Regions from separate parts of the Homo sapiens genome. Here region 2 is linked to region 1. The links come from fine-mapping of genetic effects on gene expression. A gene starts in region 1. The other region holds a variant in brackets. All regions are shown on one strand. Distances are between the middles of the regions. Region 1 holds the start of TCAF1 (TRPM8 channel associated factor 1). Region 2 overlaps TCAF1 (TRPM8 channel associated factor 1).

What was found.
Region 2: its variant is fine-mapped to the expression of TCAF1 in cerebellum (GTEx, PIP 0.95). The same link has a PIP of 0.9 or more in esophagus muscle.

The regions. Positions count from the first base shown.
Region 1 is chr7:143,897,788-143,906,127 of GRCh38, forward strand. It overlaps TCAF1 (TRPM8 channel associated factor 1), which reads right to left and starts at 4,389. Exons shown (of 9, transcript NM_014719.3): 1 at 4,174-4,389. It overlaps LOC105375549 (a long non-coding RNA gene), which reads left to right. Exons shown (of 3, transcript XR_007060574.1): 3 at 1-4,166. RefSeq lists enhancers at 3,357-3,894, 3,570-3,619, 7,962-8,340 and a silencer at 4,410-4,549.
Region 2 is chr7:143,844,547-143,852,886 of GRCh38, forward strand. It overlaps TCAF1 (TRPM8 channel associated factor 1), which reads right to left. Exons shown (of 9, transcript NM_014719.3): 9 at 6,829-8,340. All of the region lies in intron 2 of LOC112267988 (a long non-coding RNA gene), which reads left to right. Among named protein-coding and RNA genes, the nearest start is that of TCAF1, 53 kb to the right of the region's middle. The variant G/A (reference allele first, on the strand shown) is at 3,446.

The sequences.
Region 1 (8,340 bases):
GGAAATATTCAAGGACCAGATAATCCCAATCTTGCACAAATTCTTCCAAAGAATAGCATAAGGGAGAATACTATTCATATTATTTTATGATAATACCAGCATCAGAAAAGGATAGTACAGAAAAGTATAATTACATGCCAATCTTAAATCACACGTATAAATATAAATATCCAATGTTTACCTTTTGTATCTATATCCACATACAGAAATTACTACATATTTACCACAAAAGGTTTATTCCAAGAATACAAAATTGGTTTAATATCAGAAATTAAATACTATACTTTACTATGTTGTTAATATAGTTAAAGGAAAAAAAGTATATATATTCTCAACAGCTACAGGAAAAGCATTTGAAAAAACATCCATTTATAATAAAAGTGCTTACCAAAAGAAGAACAGAATTTTCTTATGATGGGGAAGACATTTACAAAGTAACTATAGCAAATGTCATTTTTAAGTTGACATAATGAAATATTTCTCATTATTATCTTAAGGACAAAACAAGATGCCCTTTATTACTTTTATTCAACAGTGTACTGGAGCTCCTAGTCATTGTCATAAGACAGAAAAAATAAATTGAAGGTATGAGAATTAGAAACGAATAAACAAAATTATCATTATTTTCGGATGATATGATTGCCTATGTAGCAAATCTGAAAGAAGCTACAGGTAAATTTAGAATTATTAATTTTCTCAAGTTTGATTGATATATAATTAATATATAAAAGGCAACTGAATTTCTGTATGCCAGCAACAATAAACTACAAAATATAACTTTTACAAAAGAAAATGCTTACAATAGCAGTAAAAATATGACGTGCCTAGAAATTTAACAAAAACTGAGCCAAAAGAAAACAATAAAAAATAGTACAAAACATTGAAGATGACTTAAATAGTGTCATATACCATGTTCATTGAGGAAAAGGGCCAATGTCTTAGAAATAATTTCTGCCCAAAATAATTTATAGAGTGCAATGGTTTGAATGTGTCCCTCAAAAAGCAGGTGTTGGAAACTTAATCCCCAATGCAATGGTGTTAAGAGGTGGGCTTAATGAGAGGCCATCAGGTCATGACAGCAGAGTGAATGAATTAATGCCATCACTGTAGGAGTGAGTTCATTATAAAAGGCGGCATTCACCCTCCTTTTACACTCTCTTTCAGCCTTTCTCTGCCTTTATGCCATGGAATGACACAGTAAGAAGGCTCTTTCTTGCCAGATGCCAGCCACTCAATCTTGGACTTCCCAGCCTCCAGAACTGTGAGCTGATAAATTTTTGTTCCTTATACATTACTCAGTCTCAGGTATTCTGCTATGGTAGCACAAAACAGACTAAGACACAGAGTTGATCCATTATCAATCAGAATTCCAACAGGTTTATTTGCTTGTTTGTTTCTTGTTTTGGAGAACTTGATAAGTTTATTTAAATATTTATATGGAAGGTCAAAGGTCCAAGTAAAGCTAAAACACTCTTAAAGAAGAAGAAACAGGTGATAGGACTTTTCCTACCAAATTTCAAGGCTTTTAATAAAACTATAGTGGTTAAAAATTATTTAGTATTGAGGCAGAGTTAGACAAATAGAAAATAAGAATGGGGGCTTAAAACGAATTCATGCTTATATGGAAATCCTGATTCATGCAAATCACTGGTGCTGGGGCAACAGATTATCCATATGGAATAAACAACATAAAAATCAGTTTCCATGTGGATTAAGACTAATTGCCAAAGGCAAAACTATAACACTTTTAGAAAACGATACACTAAAATTAATCTATGATCTTGAGAAAACAATTATCAAACAAGAAAAGCTATAAAAGAAAGTACTACTAACTTGAAATTAAATTCAAAACTTAGATTCATTGATAGAAACAGAGAAAGAAACAGATATAAAGACATAGAGAGAAAGAAAACCTCAAAAGCAAATTGGAAAGATGTCTGTGGCATATATAGCTAACAATTACTGCTTCGTACCCAGATTATATAAAGAAAGCATTCCAATGAGTCAATAAAAAAGGTAAACAAACAATCCAATACAAAAATGAAAGAGACAGGAATCAGAATTTCACAAAGAGAAAGCACTGATCAACATATAAAAAGTCAATCTCATTAGTTATGGAAAATGCTAGTTAAAATCACAGTTAAATGCTATTTCATACCTGCCAGACTGACAAAAAATGTAATTTTACAAGACTAAGCTGTGGCAAGCATGTAGAGCAACAAGAATGCTCATCCACTGCTGGAGGGAGTGCAAACTGGTTTAACACTTTGGAAAGTTTAGAAATGACCCAATAAAATTGAATACACATAAATCTTATAACTCCGCAATTCTACTCCCAGCTATATACTCTAGGGAAGCTCCCACACAAGTGTACTTGAATATTAGAGGACATGGGCAGGCTTTAAAGTGGCCCCGATAATCCCTGCCTCCAGGTGTTCATGTCCTTGTGTCACCCCCTTCCCTTCAGTGTGAGTTGGGCCTAGGGACTCACTTCTAATGAATATAAAATGGCAAAAATAATGGGATGTCGCTTCTGAGGTTACAGAAAGAATCTGACTTCTGTCTTTCTCTTTTTCTCTGTGGGAGCCTTCTCTCTGGGGGGAGTAAGCTGCCATGTTGCAACCATTCTTTATACAGAGGCCCATGTGGCAAAGAACTGATGTGTACAGCCAGGGTCAGTGAGGCCAATCGGCCTGCCAGCAGTCATGTGAGTAAGCCTGGGAGAGGTCCTCGACCCTACGCCTAGCCTTGAGATGACTGAGGCCCAGTCAATACCTTGATTGTTGATACAGCTTGTGAGAGACCCTGAGTCAGAGACTCCCAGCTAAGCCCCTCCTGGATTCCTGATCACAGAAACTGTAAGATAGGAGGTAACAGGACTTGTTTTGTTTGTTCGCTTTGGTTTGAAGCTGCTAGGTGTTGGGGTAATTTGTTACATAGCTTATAGATAAATCATACACCTCCAAAAGTAGAAACAATCCAATGTCCATCAGCAGTAGAATGGATAAATTATGTACATTTACACCTTAAATGACGAAAACGAAAATGGAAGGAAGCATGAAAGATGAATCTATAAAACTTAAGAATACGTACAGGATAATGTCATTAATATAATGTCATTATAATGAGAAAGCCAATACATATGTTTTAGGAATACACACACAAATATGGTAAAACTAAAAAGAAAAGCAAGGGATTCATTAAATTAAGACAAAAATCACGAAAGATGTCACATCTCAGAGAATGGAGGAGAATGGACCATGGGCATCAGTTGGGACTCATGGGCTTCTAAGGTACTGTGACGCCCTATTTCTTGACCCAAGGAGATGGTCAGGCATTCGTTTCATTATTTTTTAGACCATTCTGAGATATTTCATTTACTTTTTATTCAACATTTTAAAACAAAGTATTGAAACCAATTCATCAACAAATCACTAGTTTGGAGGATGAAAGTGATGGACCGATGGTTGGCTGGTCAGCTAGACAGACACATTCTGTCCTTTACGTCTAGTTCGAGCTGTACTTCTTCTAAATTTCCATGATTATCCAATTGGCAAAGATCTTTTTCTCCTGTACTTAAGGCCTTCTTCCGTTGCAGGTTGGGCCAAACTAGCGGCCAGCTCTCGGCTGTTTACCAGGGAACTGTATCACCCAGCACTTGCTGCTTCAGGCCAAATGCATTCCAGACTAACATTCAGCCTGAATCCCCGCGCCGCTCTCACCGCCACCCCTCCCCAGGTCCCTTCCCCCACCACAAACCCACACTGCGCCCGTGGGCGCCTAGAGCACTGGGGTGGATGAGAACTTCCACCTGGGCTTAACGGAGACAAGCTAGCCTAGAAGAATGCAAGCCCCCAGCTGGCGAGATCAAATCGCCTCGAGGGTTCCTGCTAGCTCAGATCTTAATGGCTCCTTGCGGAGCAAAAAACAAATCCTACGAAAATAGGGGGGGTCATCGCCTCCTGCCCAGCAGAGGGCATAACAATGCGGCGAGAATGAAATAGGCACCGAGCTGCAGAGAAAAATCATCAACGGGGTAGAGACGAAGGAAGGGATCCTCGGTGGAACGGCTCTATCACCTGGGGGCGCGCGCAGAGGCCGCAATCCACGCCCGGCCCTCCCCAGACGCTAAACGTCGCACCCCGCCCACCGCTCCCCGCCCCGGACACTAACCCGGGGCCCAGGCCTCGGTCACCGCGGGCCTCTCCTGGTCCAGAGTCTACGCTGAACCCCACTCACTGTTTGCCCCGCTGTTCCCTGCAGCGCGGGTTCGGGGCAGTAGCAACCTGCTAGGAGCGGGAGGCGGTTGTTCCCAGGAGGAAGCAGCTTCTCCGCCCAGGAGGCAAAGGGCAGCGGGCTCGAAACTACAGGACTTGGAAAGTCTTAGGCGGAGACTGCGGGGGTGGGGGGTGGTGAGGAGGGGCCTTCCAGGGAGCTGATTGGTCGACGCGGACGGGGGCGGGACTTGGCCGGCGCCGTCCCTCCCCTAGACCTCAGAGGCCCTGCCCGCAGATGTGGCGCCAAATCCCGGATGCAGGCCTAGGCGCCAGCCCAGGAATATAGGGAGCAAATTGTTAAGAACAAAACAAAACAAAACAAAAGTGAGAATACTTCTGAACAAGTGACGGCCTTGATAAATAGCGAGAGATGTTTATATAAAATAATACAGGACTATTTTTAAGGACGAGTGAAATCTATCGGTTCTAGCTATAGTTTTTAATTAAAAAAGCAAGTTGTATTAAAATGGAGAGTAGGATCTCTCTTTCCCCCTCCCCTCCCCTCCCCTCCCCTCCCCTCCCCTCCCCTCCCCTCCAGGGGGAGGGTCTGCTTCTGCCACCCAGGCTGGAGTGCAGTGGTGCCATCACAGCTCACTGCAGCTTCAACCTCCCAGGCTCAAGCGATCCTTCCACCTCAGAGGCTGGGACCACAAGTGCGCCGCCACCACGCCCAGCTAACTTTTTGATTTTTTGTTAGAGACAGGGTTTTACTTTGTTGCCCAGGCTGGTCTCGAACGCCAGGGCTCAAGTGATCCTCCCGCCTCGGCCTCCCAAAGTGCTGGGATCACAGGCCTGAGCCACTGCATCAGCTTTAGCATTACATTCGTGTATGAAGAAGACATGCTGCATGTGCTTCTATAAGAGGCGGGGCTAACGGTGGAGAAATTGTCTATTGATTCTTACCTTCACAACCACTGAATTGTTTTTTTTTAAACCAATACATTGTTTTTATAAGTTTAATAAAACAGTAAGGCGTTGAGAATGTTACTAACCAATCAACAGATGACAGATATTGGGCATGAGGGAGGAAAGAAAGAAAGGAGTAGCAGGGAAAAAGCCTGGACTTTGAAGCCACCACATCCTCTGCTTACAAGTTGGGCAGTGTATTCATTGCTAAGGCTGCTGTGATAAATTTTCACACATTTAGTGGCTTAAAACAACACAGATTTACTACTATCTTCCAGGACTGTAGGTCCTGGAAGTCCAGCACAGGTCTCACTGGGCTATCATCCAGGTGTAGGCAGGGATGTGTTTCTCTTTGCAGGATCTAGGGACAAATCTATTTTCCTTGCTTTTTCCAGCTTCCAGAGGCTCCCGCATTCCCTGGCTTGCAGCCCTTTCCTTCATCTTCAAAGTCAGCAATCTCATGGCTCCAGCCTCTGCTTCTGTGTCACATCTCCTTCTTTGAGTCTCCTGCTTCCTTCTTTCACTTAGAAGGACCTTGTGATTACATTGTGCCTATCCAGATAATCTAGATAATTTCCCATCTCAAGGTCAGCTAATTAGCAGCCTTCATTCTGTCTGCAACCTTAATTCTCCCTTGCCATGTAGCATTGCGTATCACAAATTCTGGGAATTAGGATCTGGACATCTGTATTAATCCATTTTCACACTGCAGATAAAGACATTCCCCAGACTGGGCAATTTACAAAAGAAAGAGGTTTAATTGGACTCACAGTTTCACGTGGTTGGGGAGGCCTCACAATCATGGCAGAAGGCAAGGAGAAGCAAGTCACATCTTATGTGGATGGCGGCAGGCAAAGAGACAGCTTGTTCAGGGAAACTGCCGTTTTTAAAACCATCGGATCTCCTGCGACCTCTCCACTATCATGAGAACGGTTGGGGAAAGACCCACCCCCATGATTCAATCATCTCCCACCAGATCCCTCCCATAACACGTGGGAATTATGGGAGCTGCAAGATGAGATTTGGGTGGGGGCACATAGCCAAACCATATCAACATCTTTAGGGAGCTATTTTTCTGCCTATCACAGAGGGCTTGTTAACTTCTATCTTAGTGTTTTCATCTGTAACATTGGGGATAATAATTGTCTCTACTTCATGGAATTTTTATGAAGATTAAATGACTTAATACAGATAAAGCTCTTAAAGCAGTGTCTGGCACATGGAAAACCCTATGTGAATGTTCACCATTACCAGAGAATGGACAGATCCTTCCAGACTTCTTCCATGATTTCCTTGGCCCTTGTCTCCTTTGCTCTTCAAATCTCCAAGTTGTGTGTTCTCTCCTCATTTCCCTGCAAATCTAGTCTCCCCTCAAAACTACATAGGCCTAGCCTGAGATTGGAGGGCAGACATGGATGGGACTTTACTTCTAAGAGATTTCTAGAAGTGAATGCACCCAGCTACTAGCACAGAGGCATAGTTTATGACTACTATGGTGAAAGGAAAAACCAGCGTCTGGATGTGTTTGTGCGGTTAAATGGGGTGTCTGGGGGGAAACTGTGGGGGCAGGTGGGTGTTTGGGGATTGTAGACTGAGTGTGTCTGAAAGACCAGGATTGCTTGCAGTTACCTCTCTTTCTCATTCTCTCATTTCTCATTCTCTCTGCCAAGACAGCTGCACTTCTCTCTTGCCAGATCCCTTCTCCCCTCAGAAGCTGACAGTCAACAGGACATAAGCTTGCCCACCCCCACTCCCTCTCCAGGCACACAAGCAAAACCCACCATTTTTAGTTGCTGTTGTTTTTGCTGTGCAATTGGTCATAGAATTTCAGAGCTACAACATCTCATCCACTCTCCTCCTTTATATTAATACAAAAAGGAACACTGAAATGCAAGCAGCAGAAGGGGTTTGCAGCAGGTAGAGGTGGAGCATGACCTTGGAATTCAGATGCCAGCGCTCTTGCAGTACAAAGTCCTTGAGGCTGAGATCACTGGCTAGTCCTCTCGGCGCCTCATGTTTCTGTGTGTGTGTGTGTGTGTGTGTGTGTGTGTGTGTGTGTGTGTGTGTGTTTGTGTGTGTATATGTTTTAGGGTATGGAAGGACACGGAGCCAGTGCAGCAGAGAAAACCCCTTCACCAGCAAGCACACCAAGACTCCTGAACCTGGGCCAGTGCGAGTTCTGGGCCAGCCAAGGCCAGGAGTTTCCATTTCACTTGCCTCCTCCCGCTACTGGCCACCCCTCAGCTCCTCCAACCCCCTCACCCACCACTCCCCCACCCCTTTCCTCTCCTTCTCAGGCTTGCTCTTTGTGGACTGGCTGTGATCCTGGGAGGAAAGGAGGAGAGAGGGGAGCCCTGCCAGACTGCAAGCAGAGTGCTGACAGCCCCTAGGAGTTTAAGATGACCTTTCTTACACGTCATCGCATGTTTTATAGCTCTGAAGAGCAGCAGTCTTTTTGGTGGCTAGTAAGTGCAGTACTAGACAACAAGGCAAGTGGTCTGTTGGTAAGAGTTCCTGCCCACGATGCTCTCTACCTGTAAGGAATTAAATTATCTCGGGGATGAAGGTGAACAATATGTAAGAGAGAAGATGGACAGAAAGACCCAAGGGAAATGAGCAGTAAAAGGGAAGCAGGGTTTAGAATTGAGGGAGACCTGTGAGATTGGGGCAGAAAGGGAAAACAGGTCAAACAGGCTCAGAAGGGAAGTGGAGGGGTTTTGCTTTTGAGAAAGGTGCTGTAGGGAGGAGAGACACAGCAGTGGGAGTGAAGGAACCCACAGTGCAGGAAGAAGGTCTTATTTATATTAGAGTGAGGTCATTGGCAAGAGAGAGAGAGAGACAGAGACAGAGACAGAATCCATCTGATTCCCTTCCTTCTGGCTTGACTGGAAGCTGGAAAGGATGGATGGAGAGGGTTGGTGCTGAATTCTGAAACCAGCCCTCGGTAACATGGCCAGCAAATTGCTCTCAGCTTTATGAAATTTGTAGTCTTGTCTATAGTTTAGGAATCTAAACCTGAACCGGTTCTCGAAAACATGGCAATGTAATCTTCTCCATTTCCCAACCTCCCTGCCATCTCTCAGTCCGGTAGCTAGGATGTGTAATTCCTTGCCTCAGGTACTTTTCCAATGCAGAAAGCAAAGCGTCAGGGCCACTT
Region 2 (8,340 bases), 53 kb before region 1:
GAAATGTTAATGAAGATGGAGAAGGAACAGTTACCAAGAAACTAGGGATAGTAGGACACAAAAAACCTGGTAACCTGGTAGTGAGTATGAACCAGTCTGGTGCCTTGCCTCCAGAGGAGCAGCAACTGAGCAGAGCTACTGGACAACCAGCCCTGCACTTCCCTAGAGCACAGACCAGCTCACTATGCAGCCACCAAGAGATAAGCACCGAAGGAGAACCTACCAGCCATGGATCCTCAGAAAACAGACCAGCTAAGTGCCCAGCCTTCAGGGGACAAGCAGCTGAGTGGGCATACCAGCCACACAAACTTCTGCAGCCAAGGCCACTGAGGTACTTGCAGGCACCACTGACATTAACTACAGCTAAAGAAGCTGCATGGAGACTACACTACTGCATCCACCCAGAACAAAAACAAATGTACCTTACCCAACCAACATGCTAGGACACATCTGCAGGTGTAAGTCTTTTCCGCTGAAAGTTATGCTACCAAGTTAGAAAAGGTGATTATTCCATCAGATGCACAGATGCCAGTGCAGGGATACAAGAAACATAAAAAAGCAAGGGAACATGACACCACCAAAGAAACACAATAATTCTCTAGTAACTGACCCCAATAAAAAAATAAAAATTTATGAATTGCCTGAAAAGGAATTCAAGATAGTGAGCCTAAGGAAACTTGGTGAGACATGAAAGAACACAAACGGATCATTCAACAATCGGGAAAAACAGTTCATGATCTGAATGAGAAATTCAACAAAGAGAGAGATATCATAAAAAAGAACAAAATAGAAATCTTGGGGCCAAGAAATTCAATGAATGAAATAAAAAAACGCAATTGAGAGCTTCAACAGCAAAATAGATCAAACAGAAGAATTTTTGAACTTGAAAACAGGCCTTTTGAAATAGTCCAGTCAGAGGTAAAGAAAAAAAAAAAGGAATGAAGAAGCCTATGGCATTTATGGGACACCATAAGTGAACAAATGTTTGCATTTTGGCAACTTAAGAAGAAGAGATGAAGAAAGGCAAAGAAAGCTTATTTAACAAAGTAATAGTTGAAAACTTCCCAAGTCTTGGGGAGATATGGACATCCAGATCCATGAAGTTCAAAGGATCCCACAAAGATTCAACTCAAAGAGGTCCTCTCTGAGGCATATAACCAAACTGTCAAAAGTCAAAGACAAAGAAAAAAATACTAAAAGCAGCATGAGAAAAACATCAAGTCACATATAAGGGAATTGCCATTGGACTATTAGCAGATTTCCCAGCAGCAACCTTGCAGGCCAGGAGAGAATGGGATGATATATTTAAAATACTAGAAGAAAAAAAGCTGCTAGCCTAGAATACTATACCAGCAAATCTTTGCTTCAGAAATGAAGGAGAAATAGTCTTTCCCAGATCAGCAAAAGTTGAGGGAACTCATTACCACTGGACCAGACTTACAAGAAATGCTTGAGTATTTCTATTGGAAAAAAAAGTTTTCATGATAATTGCTACCATAAAAAAACATGAAGTATAAATCTCACTGCTGGAGATAAATGCATTATCAAATTCATAATGCTTCATTACTGCAATGGTGATATGTAATGTTTCAAACCTCTAGTATGAAGGTTAAAGGCCAAAACAGCTGGGTGCTGTGGCATGTGCTTGTAGTCCCAGTTATTTAGGAGGCTGAAATGGAAGGCTCATTTGAGCCCAGGGGTTTGAGTCCAACCTGGGCAACATAATGAGACCCCATTTAAAAAATAATAATAATTAAAAAAATGCAGCTCTGTGGGATGCCAAAAAGTGAAAATTGTAATAATGATTATAGCAATGATAAGTTGTTAAGGAATAAACAATATATAAAGATGTATATTAAAGCAACAAAATTATAAATTTGGGTGCAGAATGAAAGTCTAGAGTATTGGTATGCAATGAAAGTTAACTTGTTATCAGCTTAAAATAGTCTATTATAAGTATGAGAGATTTTTAATGTAACCCCAATACTAATCACAAAGAAAAAATTACAACAGATATACAAATGAGAAAGAGAAAGGAATCAAAGCTTAACACAACAAATACCCTAATCAAGCCACAGAGATAAACATGAGAGAGGAAGAAAGGAACAAAGGATAAACAAAACAACCAGAAAATAATGAACAAAATGGCAGAAGTCCTTACCTATCAATAATAACTTTGAATGTAAATGAAATAAATTCCCAATTAAAACATACGCCGTGGCTGAATGGATTAAATTAAAAAAAAAAAAAAACAAGATTCAGCAACATGCTGCCTACCAGATAGGCACTTCACCTATAAGGCCACACATAGACTGAAGTGAAAGAAGAGAAAATGAAATTCTGTGAAAATGGAAACCAAAACAAAGCAGGGGTAGTAATACTTACATCAGACAAAATAGACTTTAAGTAAAAAACTGTCAAAAGAGAAAAGAAGGTCATTATATAAAGAAAGATAAAGAAATCAGTTCAGCAGAAGGTTAGGACAGTTGTCAGTATATGAGCACACAACACCAGAACACCCAATATATAAAGTAAATATATAAAGCAAATATTATGAGATCTAAAGGGAGAGAAAAATTAAAATAAAATAAAAAAGGACTTTAGCACCCTCTTTCAGCAATGGATGGATCATCTAGATAGAAAATCAACAAAGAATTATCAGATTTAAATTACATTCTAGACCAAATAGCCCCAGCAGATATTTATAAAACATTCCCCTCAATAACTACTGAATGTACATTTTGCTCAACAGCACATGGAACTTTTCTCCACGATAGAATATATGTTAGTCCACAAAACATATCTCAAGCAATCAAAAAAATCAAAATCTTATCAAGTATCTTCTCTTACCACAATGCAATAAAAACTAGAAATGAATACCAAGAGGAACTATGGAACATATACGAATATGTGAAAACTAAAAACAAGTTTTTACAAAACCAGGGCATCAATAAAGAAATTAAAAAGAAAATTTAAAAATTCCTTGAGACAAATAAAAGGAAACATAATGTACCAAGACCTATGGGATACAGCAAAAGCTATTCTAAGAGGGAGTTTATAGCAATAGATGCCTACATCAAAAAAGTATAAGAATCTTTTATAAAAACTTTATGTGGCACCTCAAGGAATGAGAAAAACGAGGGCCAGCTGAACCCTAAACTACTAGAAGAGAAGACTGATAAAGATCAAGCAGAAATAAGTGAAATAGAGCCTGAAAATAATATAAAAATCAGTAGAACAAAAAGTTGGTCCTTTGAAAGATAAACAAATGTTTTAGCTAGACTAACAAAAAAGAGAAGACTCAAATAAATATAATCAGAGCTAAAAAAGGAGATGTCACAGAAATACAAAGGATCATAGAAGACTTTTATGAGCAATTATATGCCAATAAACTGGAAAACCTAAAAGAAATAAATAAATTCCTGGACACATGCAACCTACCAAA[G/A]TTGAACTACTATGAAGAAATAAAATACCTACACAGGCCAATAATGTGTAACAAGAATGAATCAGTAATAATAAGTCTCCCGTCAAAGAAAAGCCCAGGAACTGATGACTTTACTGCTAAGTTCTACCAAACATGTAAATAATAATATCACTTCTTTTCAAACTATTCTAAAAAGTTGAAGAGGTGCAAATTCTTCCACACTCATTCTATGAGGCCAACATTATCAAAACCAGACAAGGATAACTTGATAAAAAGAAAACTACAGGCCAATCTCCTTTATCAACATAGATGCAAAAATCTTTAACAAAATATAAGTGAAACAAATTCAACAGCATATTGAAAAAATAATTCACCACAATCAAGTGAGATTCATCCCAGGGATGCAAGGATGGTTTAACATATGTAAATCACAAATGTGATACATCACATTAACAGAATGAAGGACAAAAATGACATAATCATTTTAATAGACAAAGAAAAAAATTTGATAAAATTTAACATCCCTTCATGATAAAAATTCTCAGCAAATGAGATGTAGAAGTAATATACCTCAACACAATAAAGGCCATAAATGAGAAGCTCATAGATAACATCATACTGAAGAAGTTGAAAGCTATTCCTCTATGATCTGCAATAAGACAAGGATGCCGCATTTATCACTTTTGTTGAACATACTACTGGAAATCCAAGCCAGAGCAATTAGGCAAGAGAAATGAAAGGCATCCAAATAGGAAAGGGGGAAGTCAAATTGTCCTTGTTTGCAGATGACATTATCTTATATATAGAAAATCCTAAAGATTCCACAAAAAACTGTTAGAATAAATAAATTCAATAAAGTTGCAGGATACAAACTCAACATGCAAAAATCAGTAGTGTTTCTATATGCCAGTAGCAAGCTACCTAAAAAAAGATATCAAGAAAGCAATCCACTGACAATAGCTATAAAATAAATACCCAGGAATATAGTTAACAAAGGAGGTGAAACATCTTGAGTGGAAACTATAGAATATGGATAAAATAAATTGAAGAGGACACAAATAAATAGAAAGATAATAATGAATTGCAAAAATTAATATTGTCAAAATGTCCATATTATCCAAAGCAATTTACTAATTCAATGCAATCCCTATTCTTCACAGAAATAGAAAAAAAAATCCTAAAACTTCTATGGAACCACAAAAGACCCCAAATAGCCAAAGTAATCCTTAGCAAAAATAAAGCTCGAGGCATCACACTACCTGACTTTAAAATATACTATAAAGCTATAGTAACCAAATCAACATGGTACTGGTATAAAAATAGACACATAGATAACTGAAACAGAATACAGAACAGAAATAAATCCATGCACTTACAGCCAACTGATTTTCAACAAAAGTGTCAGCAACATGCATTAGGAAAAGGAGAGGCTTTTCAATAGATGGCACTGGGAAAACTGAATATCCACATGTAGAAGAATAAAATTAGACCCCTGTCTCTTACCATATGTAAAAATTAGTTCAAAATTGATTAAAAACTTTAATGTAAGACCTGAAACTGTAAGCATCCTAGAAGAAAACATGGGAGAAACAATTCATGACATTGGTCTCGGCAAGAATTTTTTGAATAAGACCTCAAAAGCATACAACAAAAGCAAATATAGAGAAATGGTACTATATTAAACTAAAATGCTTCTGTACAGCAAAGGAAACAGATTGAAGTTAACTTAAGGAATGGGAGAAAACATATGCAAACTATGCATCTGACAAGGGGTTAATGCCTAGAATATATAGAAAAATAACTCAATAGCAGAAAAATAAATAATTCCATTTAAAGATGGGCAAAATGCCTAAATAGACATTTCTCTAAAGAAGACATACTAATGCTTAGCATCACTAATCATCAGGGAAATGCAAATAAAACCATAATGACATATCACCTCAGTCCAGTTAGAATGGCTATTATCAAAAAGACAAAAAATAACAAATGTTGGGGTAGATGTGAAGAAAGAGGAAGTCTCATATGCTGTTGTAAATTAGTCCAGCAATGATGGAAAACAGAATGAAGGTTCCTAAAAAAGTTAAAAAATAGAAGTACCATATGATCCAGAATCCCACTACTGAGTATATATCCAAAGGAAATAAAATCAGTTATGTGGAAGAGATATCTGCATTCCCATGTTTATTGCAGCATTATTCACAGTAGTTGCATGGAATCAACCTAAGTGTCCATCAGTGGATGAATGGATAAAGAAAATGTGGTGTATATATACAATGGAAGACTATTCAACCATAAAAAGAAATTTTGTCATTTGTGGCAACGTAATTGGGCCCAGAGGACATTATGTTAAGTAAAATAAGCCAGGCATGTAAAGACGAATACTGTACAATCTCACACAAAAGTGGATTCTATAATTTAAAAAGTTGATTTAATAGCAGCAGAGCGTAGAATAGTGGTTGCCAGAGGCTTGGGAGGGTAGTGGGGCAGGGGAGATGGGGATAGACTGGTCAACAGGTACAAAGGTTCAGTTAGATAGGAATAAGTTCTGGTGTTCTATTGCACAGTAGGGTGACTATAGTTAACAATATTATATTGTATATTTCAAAATAGCTAGAAGAGAGGATTTTGAATGTTCTTACCACAAAGGGATGATAAATGTTTGAGGTGAAAAATATGCTAAATACCCTGATTTGATCATCACAAAATATATACGTGTATCAAAACATCACACTATACCCTATAAATATGTACAATTATTATGAGTCAATTAAAAGTAAAATAAAACTTAAAAAAAAGAAACTTGGTGGCCTAAAGATTTCCACTAGATAGTTGGCTGTTTCTCCCAAGTACAGGGTTAAAAATAGCTGAAAAGAGGTTACGATGTTCAGGGAAAGTAGCAAAGAGTACACCAGGGAGACTGACAGATGGACAGAAATGCTCTGACACTAGCTGGCCTCATATAAGACTAAAACTTATTAAAGCTGTCAAATGAAGGGGAGTGCAGGAAAGCTTAGGGCCCTGGATGGTCCTTCTTGAAATGTTTCCCAGAACAGGGGCAAACATCAAAGGCCTTCTTGGAAAAGAATGAAGTTGGCAAACTTCATTCAATGCTGTATTGGACATTCCTTCATTCAACAAATATTAAAACCCACTAGATGGTAAGCTTACTCAGCAGACATGGTGAGATCAGCAGTAGGCTTTGTTTTTTGTGGAACACCTATACAAACAAAAGAATGTGAAGTGTGTTTTAATAACTGGAAGATACTTAATCTGGTTGGAAATAGAGACTTGTGGGGAGATATCATGAGCCTGGACACATCAAGTGGACCTAGATACTTGAGGACCTTGAAAACCATTTTAAAGGCTTTAGCTGGGTTGCATCTTAATCAATGTGAAGTCACTGGAAGATTTTTATTTGGGTTTATTAAAAATTTTTTCAAAGTAATACATGCACAAGGTAAAAAATTAAATAGTACAGAAGGACTTAAAATGAAAAACACAGTTTCCCATCCCACCCTTTTTAAATCTAAATCCCATTCCCTAGAGGTAATGCTTTTAACAATATTTATTTTAGATCGTCTGGTAACTTTCTAACTTTAAATAATATGTTTGAGCAATAATTTCTTGACTTACTGACTTTACAACATCTTTAATAATTCCCCATTACAAAAGATAAGGATTTAACTTACACTATCGCCACTTTCCTTTGTCCATCTCTCTCCAAATGTCTGATAGTTACATCACTTTTTAATACATCTATTGGTTTGATTTTATAGCTTTGAACAATACACTAATCCTCTAGTTCTTGTTCCATTAACTGAAGATCTTTTCATCCCCACTTTGAATATATAAGTATCTCTACCTTTGATTCCACTTCTCTTCCTCTAATTCTCAATCTCTTTCTGCTTTCTTTCCCTTTGTCAGCATTAATTACTTTCAACTTCAGTTCTGAATAAAAAATGAAACCTTTCACACTTTGTTAATAGGCTGATCTGAACATTGAATACTAATAAATGATATCCACATTATTTTGGCTATTTAAATACTTCTTACTGGGAGCCTAGTATAAGCTAGGATATTTTCTTCCCTACACACCCAATATCATCATGCCTGTGCCATAGAAAAGGAAATGTACCTATCAAGCCTCTTCTTATTCTTCATGAATAACTCAAAATCATGCCTCATTTTATTTTGCTCTATAATTGGACCTGAATTTTTTGACATATTGTTGATTTGTCTTTCTTTTTTCTTGACTAAATAATCTTCTCAAGCATCCCAGCTCTTCAATGATACTATCTATGGCACTGAATGCACATTCTTCCCAGAAAGCCCGAGACAGTATGCTCTCATCTGAAATTAGTCTGCTGGATAGCTGTCACTCTAGGGTGAGATACCCTTTTGGCTGTCACTCTAGAATGAGACATCCTAAGTAAGGTCCACTGTTTTATGGATCCCATTTCTTCTTCTTTCCTGGTTTTCATCCTCATTTTGCTGGAGAATTTCCTCAAGATACTTCCTCAGTAAGGGTGCAAAGGAGACTTTCTGAAAATTTGCCTGACAGAAAATGTCTTCACTTTGATGTTCTTCTTGACAGTCTGCCTTACTATGAAATTCTAGGTACAAAAATTTTCCTTAAGCTCTGAAGATGTTGATCCATTGACTTCTGGCATTCAGTGTTGCTGATGACAAATCTGTTAGCAGTCTATTTCTCATCCATTTTTGTGTTGAGCTAATCGTGATGACCTCATTTGTTTTCTCCCTGGCCACTTTAATATCTTCCTTCTATCCTTAATATTCCAAAATTTTACAATATTGTGTCTAGATGTAGATTGTATTGGGCCCTCTCAATCTGGAGACTTAGCTTGCTCTGTTCTTCAATTCTTTTTCTTTTTATTTCTTCACCTACACTGTCTCTG